2 separate regions of the Homo sapiens genome follow, and region 2 is linked to region 1. The links come from fine-mapping of genetic effects on gene expression. Tissue or cell type: whole blood. Region 1 holds a variant in brackets; the other region holds the start of a gene. All regions are shown on one strand. Distances are from middle to middle. Region 1 overlaps PHF20L1 (PHD finger protein 20 like 1). Region 2 holds the start of TG (thyroglobulin).

Region 1 (5,528 bases):
ATGGGTTGATCTGTGCAGCAAACCACCATGGCACACATTTACCTGTGTAACAAACCTGCACATCCTGTACATGTACCCCAGAACTTATTCGGTTGGTGCAAAAGTAATTGAGGTACTTTTGTACCAACCTAATAAAAGTTGAAGAGGAAAAAAAAAAGATATGCAAGATGGAAATTCACCTTTTTTCTTCCCCACAATTCGTAAAGAGGTTCTCCTGATGTCTGGCACACCAATTATACAGTGATAATCTGATCAATAAATTTTTCAAGTAATAAATCTCTGAAGGTAATTAACTAGTCCTGGAAGAACTCTGTAAAAATTCTGTTTTTCTCAGTTTTGTAATGAGTCCCACAGATGTGTGCAAGGGGAGAGGCCATATGCAGCTTACTGGAGAGTTGAGGGTATAGTAAGGGAAGGAAAAAAGGAGGTGGGGGTGTGATTCCAGGCATGTGGGAAGGCTCTGAAGCTGAAGAGTGCATGCCACATTTGGCAAGCTGTAAGACTGGCTGGAACACAGTGAATAAGGGAGAAACAAAGCTAGAGTGACAGGAGCCAGATTAGCTTTTTTTAAAAAGTTTTACCCTAATGCAATAAAAAGTCATTCAATGCTTATGTGGAGGAGGAGCAAGATGTGACAGTTTCATTTCCAGAGGATCACTCTAGCTGTGGAATGGAGGATGGAATGCAGGAAGGCACACATAGAAGTGGGGGGACAGTTCAGAGGCTACAGCAGTAGTCCAGGAAAGAAATGTTGGTGGCTCAGAACTTGGGTGATGGCAAATAAGGGGAAGATTTTAAGGAAGATGGAGTGCTGTTATAGACTGGAGGCCGAGAGCTAAGACGGCATTATCAAGATTGATTTCCAGGTTTATGCGTGAGCAACAAGGCAACAAAAGTGGGTATGAGATGGGGCTGAAGAGTAAATGCAAGGTGGAGAAACCAGAGAAGAAACAGAAGTTTAGAAGAGGGCTCTGTAAGATGGGAAATCTTACACATTACCTACATGAACCTTAAGATGTGGGAAAGGGGGATGGCAGTGGTGAGAAATGCTAGATTAAGAAAAGCAGACATTCCCTCCATTTTAATAGAGGCTAAGATGATGAATATTTTCATGTAAGCATGCAGATGTGGTAGATAGAGTATGAGCAAGTTCCCACCTGATGATGTCTGTCTTCTCAACTCTGTGAGGAAAAGGATGTCAAGTGACGCAGGTTAGGGAATACATGAGAGGTGGAAATGAGAGATGGAAACGAGTGGGAAAAAGGAAAGACAGAGAGTGGAAAAGTGAGCTTATAAGAGACGCATTGGTCTGTGCTAAGTATCCATTTGAAGGTGGCAGCTGTGGGAGACAGAATAGTCTGCCAAAAATGTCTATGTCCTAAACCCTAGAACTTTTAAATAAGCTAAGCTATGTGGAAAAGTGGAATTAAGGTTGCTAATCGGCTGACCTCACAACAGGGAGAGTATCCTGGATCATATGGGTGGGCCCAATGTAATGGCAAGGGTCCTTAAAAGTGAAAGGATGGAGGCAGAAGAGATGACGTGAGAGTGAAACAAGATGAGAAAGACTGGACCACTGCTGACTTTGAAGATGGGAGCAGGACAAGAGCCAAGCAATGCAGAAGCCTCTGGAAACTAGAAGAGGCAAGAAAACAGACTGTCCCTAAGAGCCTCCAGAGAAAAATGGAGCCCTGTTGATACCTTGGTTTTAACCTAGAGAGACCCATTTTGGACTCCTGACCTCCAGAACTTTAAGATAATAAATACATATTTTTTTAAACCACTGATGTGCAGTAATTTGCAACAGCAGCAATGGGAAACTTACACTCATCATCATAAATACCACGGCACAACCAACACTGATTGAGGGCTCTCTATGTGCCAAATGCAATTTTCAGTTCTTTATGTGTATTAACTCTTTTAATCCTCACAAGCATCTAATGAGGGAAGTAGGACTGCTAGTAAAGAATTGAGGCAAGACAGATGAAGCAAATTGCCCAAGAATATACAACTATCAATAGCAAAGCCAACATTCAAACCCAGGCAGCCTGACTATGGAAGCTACACTCTTAACAAATAAGTGATATCGGTGTATTTCAACATTTAAAGGGTGCACAAGCTGGCAAGCTTGTTAAACCCCAGATTCCTGGGCCTCATCTCCAGTGCACTGGGAATGAAACACTCCCAGATGATGCTGATGCTGTCAGATTACAGCAGTCTTTGGGCAGCACTACGCTATTCTGACTCCAGTGGCCTCACCATAACCACAGTTTGCCCAACACCATATTACTTAGGCCCAGACATGGAAAGGACATTTATTAAATGCCAGGTACTGTATCAAGTACTTTACAATGATTACTTTATTTAATTCGAATAATAAATCTATGCAATAAAACTATC[A/G]ATTACCATTTATTTTAGAAGAAAGGAAACTGGGATGTAGAGAATTTAAATAACCTGTCAAAGGTCGCTTAGCTGTAAGTGTTACGGGCAGGATTTGAATACCTATACTAAACCTTCAAGGCTGCCTTCTTATCAACTCCATTATATATTGTCCTTTCAGCAAAAGTAAAAGTAGAAGCAGAATCTGATTGTAAAAACAATGAAAGAAATCTCAATTTTGTACTAAAATAAAACATGGCTGATATTTAATAGGTAAAACTTGGCATTCCGCACCCTGTCTGTATTCCCCACTTCAATTCCCTCTGGCTATTATGAATAAAAGTCTGTTATGTTTCAAGGCTTAGATCAGAAGTAGTCTCCTACATAAAGTCCCTTCCTTGATCATACCAACTTTTCTAGCTTAAATATTTATTTTGTACCACTCTTACCACAAATATCAGACCTTCCTGGTAGAGATTTATGTATGCTTATCTCTCTTACCATATACTTCAATGACTTACAAGCTCCTCGAAGGAATCTTTTTTACTATGCAATGCTTTCAATTCTCTTTTCACTTCTAACTCTATTTCTTTTTAATCTCTGTATGCCTGCAGTATCCTTATATTTACAGACACATGAAAGACAGATGAAGTGATTTGCTCAAAGTAACAAAGCTAAAAACTGGCAAAGATGACACTCTTAAATCCCAACATGGTGACTTCTCATACACACAAATTAAACACAATGTTAGTATTATGTCTTGTAAACCAATTATGTTAATCAAAACATATCTTAACCTACTACCTCATAAAATAATAAAAAACAACTAATCTAAATTACTTTGCATAACTGCATTAAAATAACAGGGACAAGAACTTAGTATGCCAATAAAAACAAGTAAAAACTTGTTGAAGAGAAGAATACACAGTTTGATAAACAGTATTTCAGGTATTAATAACATAGCATGGTGATTAGAGTTAAAAATTCAGACTTGTAAGTCAGACTGCTTGGATTTGAAATGAATCTGCTTTTCACCACTAGCTAGCTATGAGAGCTGGAGAGCTCTCTTTCTCACTCTCTCTCAGTTAACTGTTGGTAAAATGTAGATAACAGATCCTATTGTAAAGGGTTAATATGAGGATTAAATGAAGTAATAATATTTATAAAATGCTTAGTTTTGGGTACATAAGTACCAGCAGGATATATAAAATAATGTTGAGTGGTAAATAAAAGAAAGAATTTTGAAACTCCCTCATGGTGCTAACTGTAGACTAAAAAACATACTAGAAGCCTCATACAGTAATAATGTCAATTCTTTAACATTAAGATGTCTTTAAAATTTCAAAGTTACTTCAAATCCTGTATTTCCCACTTAAAGACCACTCTTCTAATTTAACCATCTGGGGAAAAGTGCCATTTCTAAGATAAAGTAAATAGCTCAGAATAAATTCTCCTCAAATGCAACAATTAATTACAAAGATGACAGTGATTATCAAACTCAACACCTGCTGTTTATAAACAGCAATGTTTCTGTGCATCTTACTAGGACTCTATTTACAAAGTTAAGATTTTCATTTGTAAGCCTGATTTCAAAATGTAAACAAATATATAAGGTTTTCTTTTTCATTAAAAAATAAAAATATATACCATTTAAAGTACGTTTTAATGGCTCTTTGTAAAGGGTTCCATAGTTAATGGCTGGTCACAATTCTAAGGTGAGGTTTTTTTGGCCATTTTTCCTCTATTAATCCTAATTGCTCCTCCTTCTCTCAAGTTACAATTTCCTGCCTTCTCTTAAGCTCTAGCCCTCATATTTTGCTACCAAGTGTGGGCCCCTTCTTATTTTGTTTTGTATCAGCTGCTGTTATCTTTTTCCCCACTTTCACAGGTATTTTGTATGTAAGATTCTGTGTCTGCTACTAAATATCAGAACAGAACACAGTTTGTTGCTGTGCCGTAAGATAACCCTGAAATAGCTGGCCATTCCTGCACTGACAATGCAGGTCTCCATTGGAACACCTAAGCTAGGCAAATCCCCTCAGAGCCTTTGGTCAGGTGGGAGTTCATCTGGAAGTTTTATTTGCAGCCTGAGCTTCTCATTTCTGTATTGTGACATACCACTCACAGAAGGGTATTCGGTAATCAAATGAGTTCACAGTGAATAGTTTTTGTTTACCAAACTCCGGAGTTTCCTACCTCTACATCATTTCTAGCTTGAATTCCACAGTTACATATGAAGAGGTGATGGGGGGGTGGGCAGGAGGGAAAGGAGTGAGGCGCAAGGCACACACAGAAGTGCCCGGAAATGTTCAAGACTCTCTGGAAAGCCGTTTCAAGCTTTGAACCCCATTTTGATCCTGTATCTTCAAATTTACTCTGGCAGCTTTAGAATTCGAGAATGTGAAAATTTCACATTCTGTGGGAAAATTAAATGTTATTTTTGGACTATGGAGAGAGCTAAAATCTGAAGAATTTACCAACAATGATTACCAACCACAAAACTGCCCGGTTGGATTTGTATTTTTTAAAACTGGTTTTATTAAATATCTAATAAATATGAAAAAAATGGGTATGACACAAAGAATATCAATAGCACAAAACACTTAGGTACTGATCATACAGTTTAAGAGAGTATCATCATTTTTGAAGGTCCCTTTGCACCATTTTCCAGTTTGAACTGATAATGGCCCTTCCCCACCTTAGAGGCAACCACTGTCTTGAATTTTTGTTCATCATTCTCTAGTTTTTCTTTATGCTTTTCCCACACACAGTTGAATCTCTTAAAAATACACTGTTTAGTTTTAAAACTTTTTTATCTTTATATAAGTGAAATATTATGTTTTCTTCAGTTACTTGGTTTTTAGCTTACCATTTTGTTCCTGAGATTCTGTAGCTGTAATTCATTTATTTATTCCACTGAAGGAATGCATGACTTTTGATGGAGAGCTGGGCTGCTCCCAGTGCTGCTGTGAACACTCTCATATTTGATGCACCGTGTGAGTTTCCTCACGGGTTTTTAGGCCACTTGGCGCACACATCGTCACCTTACTCCCTGGTCCCCATCTGTTTCCCACAGTAGTTGTGTAGTTGCCTTCATTTCCTCAGCAGCATCTGCTATTACCTATCTGGTTAGTTGTGCCAATACAGCA
Region 2 (5,000 bases), 38 kb before region 1:
CACCTGTCCAGCCTGCCAGCCCCAAAACAAGTGACCCACCCTGGAGTGCAGGGCTTCAGCCACATCCACCAAGTGTCCTCAGGCATTATGAGGCTGCAGAGGGTAAAGGCAGTGCCCACATTGTATGGATAGGGAGTGGGGGCTTGGGGGTGGGATGTTAGTGGGATCAGGGGCCAGCAGGGTATATTGGGAAGCACATGGGTGGGGTCAGGCCAGGCCATAGAGTTGACTCCCCAGAAATGATGACTGAACTGAGACCTGCAGGATGGTCAGAGGTATAAGAAGGTAAAAGATATTCCAGGTAAAGGGAACAGCATATGCAAAGCCTCCTGAAGAGAGGCCAGGTTTGAAACTGCAAGAGGCCAGAACAAGAGAGTTGGGAATGGGAATATAAATAAGGCTGGTGAAAGTGAGACTTCCTCCTTAACTCCTTCCTTGCTGTTCCAGAATTCCCAGTGATCTAAGCAGGGACTGCTCTAGCAGCATCTCTGCACACTCGTGGGAGGTTAGGCACATTAAGAGTGTACATAAGATAGCAGCAGGGAGGGAGGTTTCACAGACATTTCCCAGAACGCAGTTATATAAATGGAGTTCCCCTGATTCAACATGACTGGAATAGCACAAGGAAATTTCAATGCATGCACATTGCAAAGGATTCCTGTCTATTCTGCAGGGAAGAATTGTCTAGATTATTACCACACTCTCCACAGAGAGGGTCTCAGGCCCCAAGTCTGCATTAGGGCAGCTGGAGAAACCCCTTTCAGAGAGCAGCTCAATGTGGAGACAGCGACCCAGAAGCCCAGAGGCAGCCTAGAGAGCTAGTCCGGGCAGGGTCGGTGGCAGCTAAGGACTAGGAAGTCAAGGCAGCCTCTGCTTCCACCACCCCAGCTTCTCAAGAGGATACTTGGAGGAGGGAGAGGTCCCAAAGCACAGATCATTTGACACTCTCCTCAACCTGCCCCACTCCCCACACGTGCCGTTTATTCAAGCCATCACAGAAAAAGTGATGGCAAGAAGAGAAGGGAGGGCAGTGGGAGGATGAAGCATGGATTGGGGTTCACTTGGTCAGATTGTCCAGTGTTGAACAGCTTGGGGAACTGAAAGGCAGGCACCTCCAAATGACAGTGGAACTGAAAGGCAGGCACCTCCAAATGACAGTGGCCAAGCCTCACATGCACAAAGGAGTTGCAGGGCAGAGCTCAGGAAGAGGGGGGAAGGCACAAGATGCTTTTTATGGCATCTTGGACCTTGAGAGTTCGCTGCTGACATAAGCCTTACTGGAAGCTGCCATCCTCTGCACACTGGGGCACGTAGTCTGCTTGCTTCAGAAAGGCCGTTTCCCTCTGCAGCTCACAGGGACGAAGGGGCTGGGCATCCACCTGGTACTCTAGGAAAAGAAAAGTGGTTCATCAAAGAAGAGTGTGGACTGGGCTGCCAGGACAGAGACGGGCTCTCATAAGCACAGATGCTTTTCCAGGGTCATCATCATTACCTATGACAGCCTATTTTAAAATTTGGCAGCTAAGCACACTTTCTTACAAGTATGACATTAGCTCATTTAATGTGCAACATTCTCCTAAGAGGTGACAGGCAATATATCCTTGTCACTCATGAGGCACCAAGTCTCAGGCAGCGAAAGTCGTCTGCCCAAAGTCACGTAACTGGCAAGTGAAGGATCCCAAAATCAACGCTGGGACTACACGTTCCCCGCCCGCCCCCACCCTGCCGCAATTCCCATGAGGCTATTTGGAGTAAGTTAGAGAACCGTAAGGAAGTTCTTCTTGAATCTATCAAGCCATGCCCTGCAGATGTAACATGTTCCAGATAAACATTGAAATACCAATTAATTAATAATGTACATGACTTATTTTTCCATTGAGAACTCTTGTAACACATAGGGTCCTACCCAGAAATCACAACCGCATCATGAGGTGTGTGTTATTTGTTTACTTTTTAAATGAAAAAAAAAAAAAAAAAACAGAAGCTTGGCACTTTGCCCGAAGTCATATGGGTAAGTGGCTGAGCCAAAGACAGAACTTAGGGCTATTTCACTTCATAGGTAGATTTCTTTTTCTACTGCTTCTAAAATACCTGTTATGGATGACACAGACTTTGGAATAGCTAAGGGGATAAAAACCCAAGGTCAATGCCAAAAGTTTGCCAAAATGGTGGGGTGAGGAGGACCTAGAATTGAATTAGGAAGATCAACCACATTTCCCATTTCTGCTCCATCAATCACTAGCTCTGTGACCTCAAGTAATTCAGTTCGGCTCTCTAAATCTGCCTCTTCATCTGAAAAAAAAAAAGCAAATCACTGACATGTGGGAATTTGTGAAGATTAAATTAGATCGCACCTGTTCGAAGGCCCAGGGCAGAGCCTGGCTGACACTGGAGCTCCCTCCCCACCGCCTGGCTCCATGGCCTCAGAACTTACCGAAGATATTGGCCGACACCCAGCAGATGGAGGCCAGCAGGGTGAAGATCTCCAGGACCAGGGCCATTTTCCTGGCCCTTCCTGGGAGGAAGGAGGAGAAACCACTGCTTGCCCTAGGTCCCCTGGCCAGGGAGCTTTTATAGAGCTGCCGTTGGCACTTTCCTTCCCACCCCCAGGTCCTCAGTGAGGCAGTGCCCCATCCTGTTTTCTCTGCTGGTCAAAAGGAGCTCCCTCCACCTGTGTCTACTCCTCCTGAGGGCACTCGTGTGGCCAGTGGAGCATGAGGATCTTGTCTAAACTGTGGGGGAACAGAACGGGGTGGGGTGACTTCAAAATCCTTTTTTATGGGTAAAGACCAAAGCTCTGTATCTTTGGAGGGAACAGGCTCAAGCCCACAGTGAGGGAAAAGCAATCCTTTGTTCTTTCCTTCCCCACCCTACCCTTTCTCCTTCTCCTTCCTCCTTCCTTCTTTCCTTTCTTCCTTTCTTTCTTCTTTCCTTCCTTTCTCCCTTCTATCCTTCTTTCCTTTCATTCTTCCTTCTTTCTTTCCTTCCTTCCCTCTTTCTTTTCTTTCTTCCTTCTTTCCTTCCTTCCTTCTTTTCTTTCTTCTATTCTTTCTCTAACAACCTCTTAGAGCTCCACAGTAGCAGGCACCTAATCTAGACAATGAGGATATGGCAGAGAACAAAACAGGCAAAATCGTGCCCTCATTAATATAGACTGTGAAAACTTTGGTGAGGGAAGCAAAATACACACACACTCATATTCATATTTCTATTACTTTCCTCTCTTTCCTAGGACCTCAGACTTTGTCAACCAAAAGATAGCAGGAACTGTGTATTCCACAGAAAGCCTGTATGTCCATTTGGTTTCTCCTGGCAAACATGGCTTCCTTCCTTCAGTCCTGTTCCTGTGAGACCTGGAAAAACTCACCTCATCTCCCTGAGCCCCAGCCTCCTTCTCTGGAAAGCAAAGTTAAAAGGAGAATAATAATATGTCCCTATTTGTTAAGGTAGTTGTAAGAGAATAGACATTGAAGAGCACATGCTTATTAGACACTAGCAGTTATTATTATTATTATTGATTTTCTTATTTTGCAAAAGCATCATGCCAGGGAATGGCAAGTATTCAGAAGACCAATCCAGCCAGGTAAGGAGCTAGTGACAGATAGGGTCAGGAACTGGCAGGTAATGAGGGCAGGTTGCTGAGCCTGGCACCTGAGGAGAGATGGAGGGACCTGTGAGAATCTGGAGGATATGGTCCCGGGTAGAGTGAAGGGCAGGAGGACAAGCTGGAAAGTGGAAGAGACTCCAAACCCTGGGGAAAATAAAGGGGCCGATATAGCTGCCGTGCCGTAGACTGTACTACCTTCCACAAATAGGGTTGCTATGAATATTAAATGTGTTAAAATATGCAAAGTGCTTAAAACAGTATTTGACACATAATAAGTATCCAGTGTTAGCTACTGTACTAGTCTGCTATGGGTGTCATCACAAACTATCACAGACTGGGTGGCTTAAGTAACAGAAATTTATTTTCTCATAGTTCTGAAGGCTGGAAATCCAAGATCAAAGTGTCAGCACTGTTGGTTTCTTTGGAGACTCCTCTCCTGGGCTTGCAGATGGCCATCTCCTCCCTGTATCCTCACTTGGTCTTCCCTGTGTGTGTTTGTGTCTTAATATTTATTTCTTTTAAGTACACCAGTCATATTGGATTAGAGCCCATCCTTGTGACCTCATTGTGCACTTAATTACCTCTTTAAAGACCCTACCTTCAAATGCGGTCACATTCTGAGGTCCTGGTTTTAGGACTTCAGCATATGGATTTGGGGGGAGAACACAATTCAGTCCATAACAGCTACTGTCATCATTGTTGGGTTCCTGATATAAACTAGAGAAAGTAAAACACAACAGTCATTTGAAGTGTCAGGGTATGGGATTAAAAACAGGGGAGAACCCGTGCTCTGCCCGTCCTTCTTGGGGACCACACATGCCTGGAACTCCCACATCTCTCTCTAGCTCAGTCTCCAGCCAGACTTTTTTGAGCTCAGATCCACTCTGCCTGGACACCCTACAGGTATTTCAAATTCAACATATCCCAACCTGAACTCCTCAACCTTTCTCCTGACATCACCCCATTGGCTGTCTCTGTGATAGTAAATCCGAGCCCCATCCTAGGCTTCTCCCCTCAAGTCTTACCAGCCTCCAGGTCCTACCAGGCTGCTGCTCATTTCTACTTCCTTGGTCCTCCCCTCCTCTGCATCCTCACTCTTCCTGCCTCCGTCACATCCCTACAGCTCAGAACGAGCCAGCCAGAACAGCCTGCTGTACTGCTCCTCACCAGGGCTTCCCCACCAGCTGCAGGAACAGTCCTCTAAAATATGGCCATCCATGTCACTTTGTAGATTCTACAAAAAGAGTGTTTGGATCCTGGTGAATCAAAACACTGTTTCCATTCTGTGATATTAAACAGCACATCACAAGGCTGTTTTCACGGGTGGGGATGGAGACTCAGCCAACAGATGCTCAGGAGGTGCCGTGGCAGGAAGATCAATTCACCCTGGGGA

The links. PIP is the estimated chance that this variant, and not a neighbour inherited with it, causes the effect. A credible set is the group of variants that fine-mapping cannot tell apart.
Region 2: it holds the start of TG, and the variant in region 1 is the best candidate, but not a certain one, in a credible set for the expression of TG in whole blood (TOPMed, PIP 0.62).

What each region holds. Positions count from the first base shown.
Region 1 is chr8:132,826,264-132,831,791 of GRCh38, reverse strand. All of the region lies in intron 14 of PHF20L1 (PHD finger protein 20 like 1), which reads right to left. Among named protein-coding and RNA genes, the nearest start is that of TG, 38 kb to the left of the region's middle. The variant A/G (reference allele first, on the strand shown) is at 2,401.
Region 2 is chr8:132,864,502-132,869,501 of GRCh38, reverse strand. TG (thyroglobulin) reads right to left here and starts at 2,544. Exons shown (of 48, transcript NM_003235.5): 1 at 2,435-2,544; 2 at 1,279-1,387. The coding sequence starts at 2,501.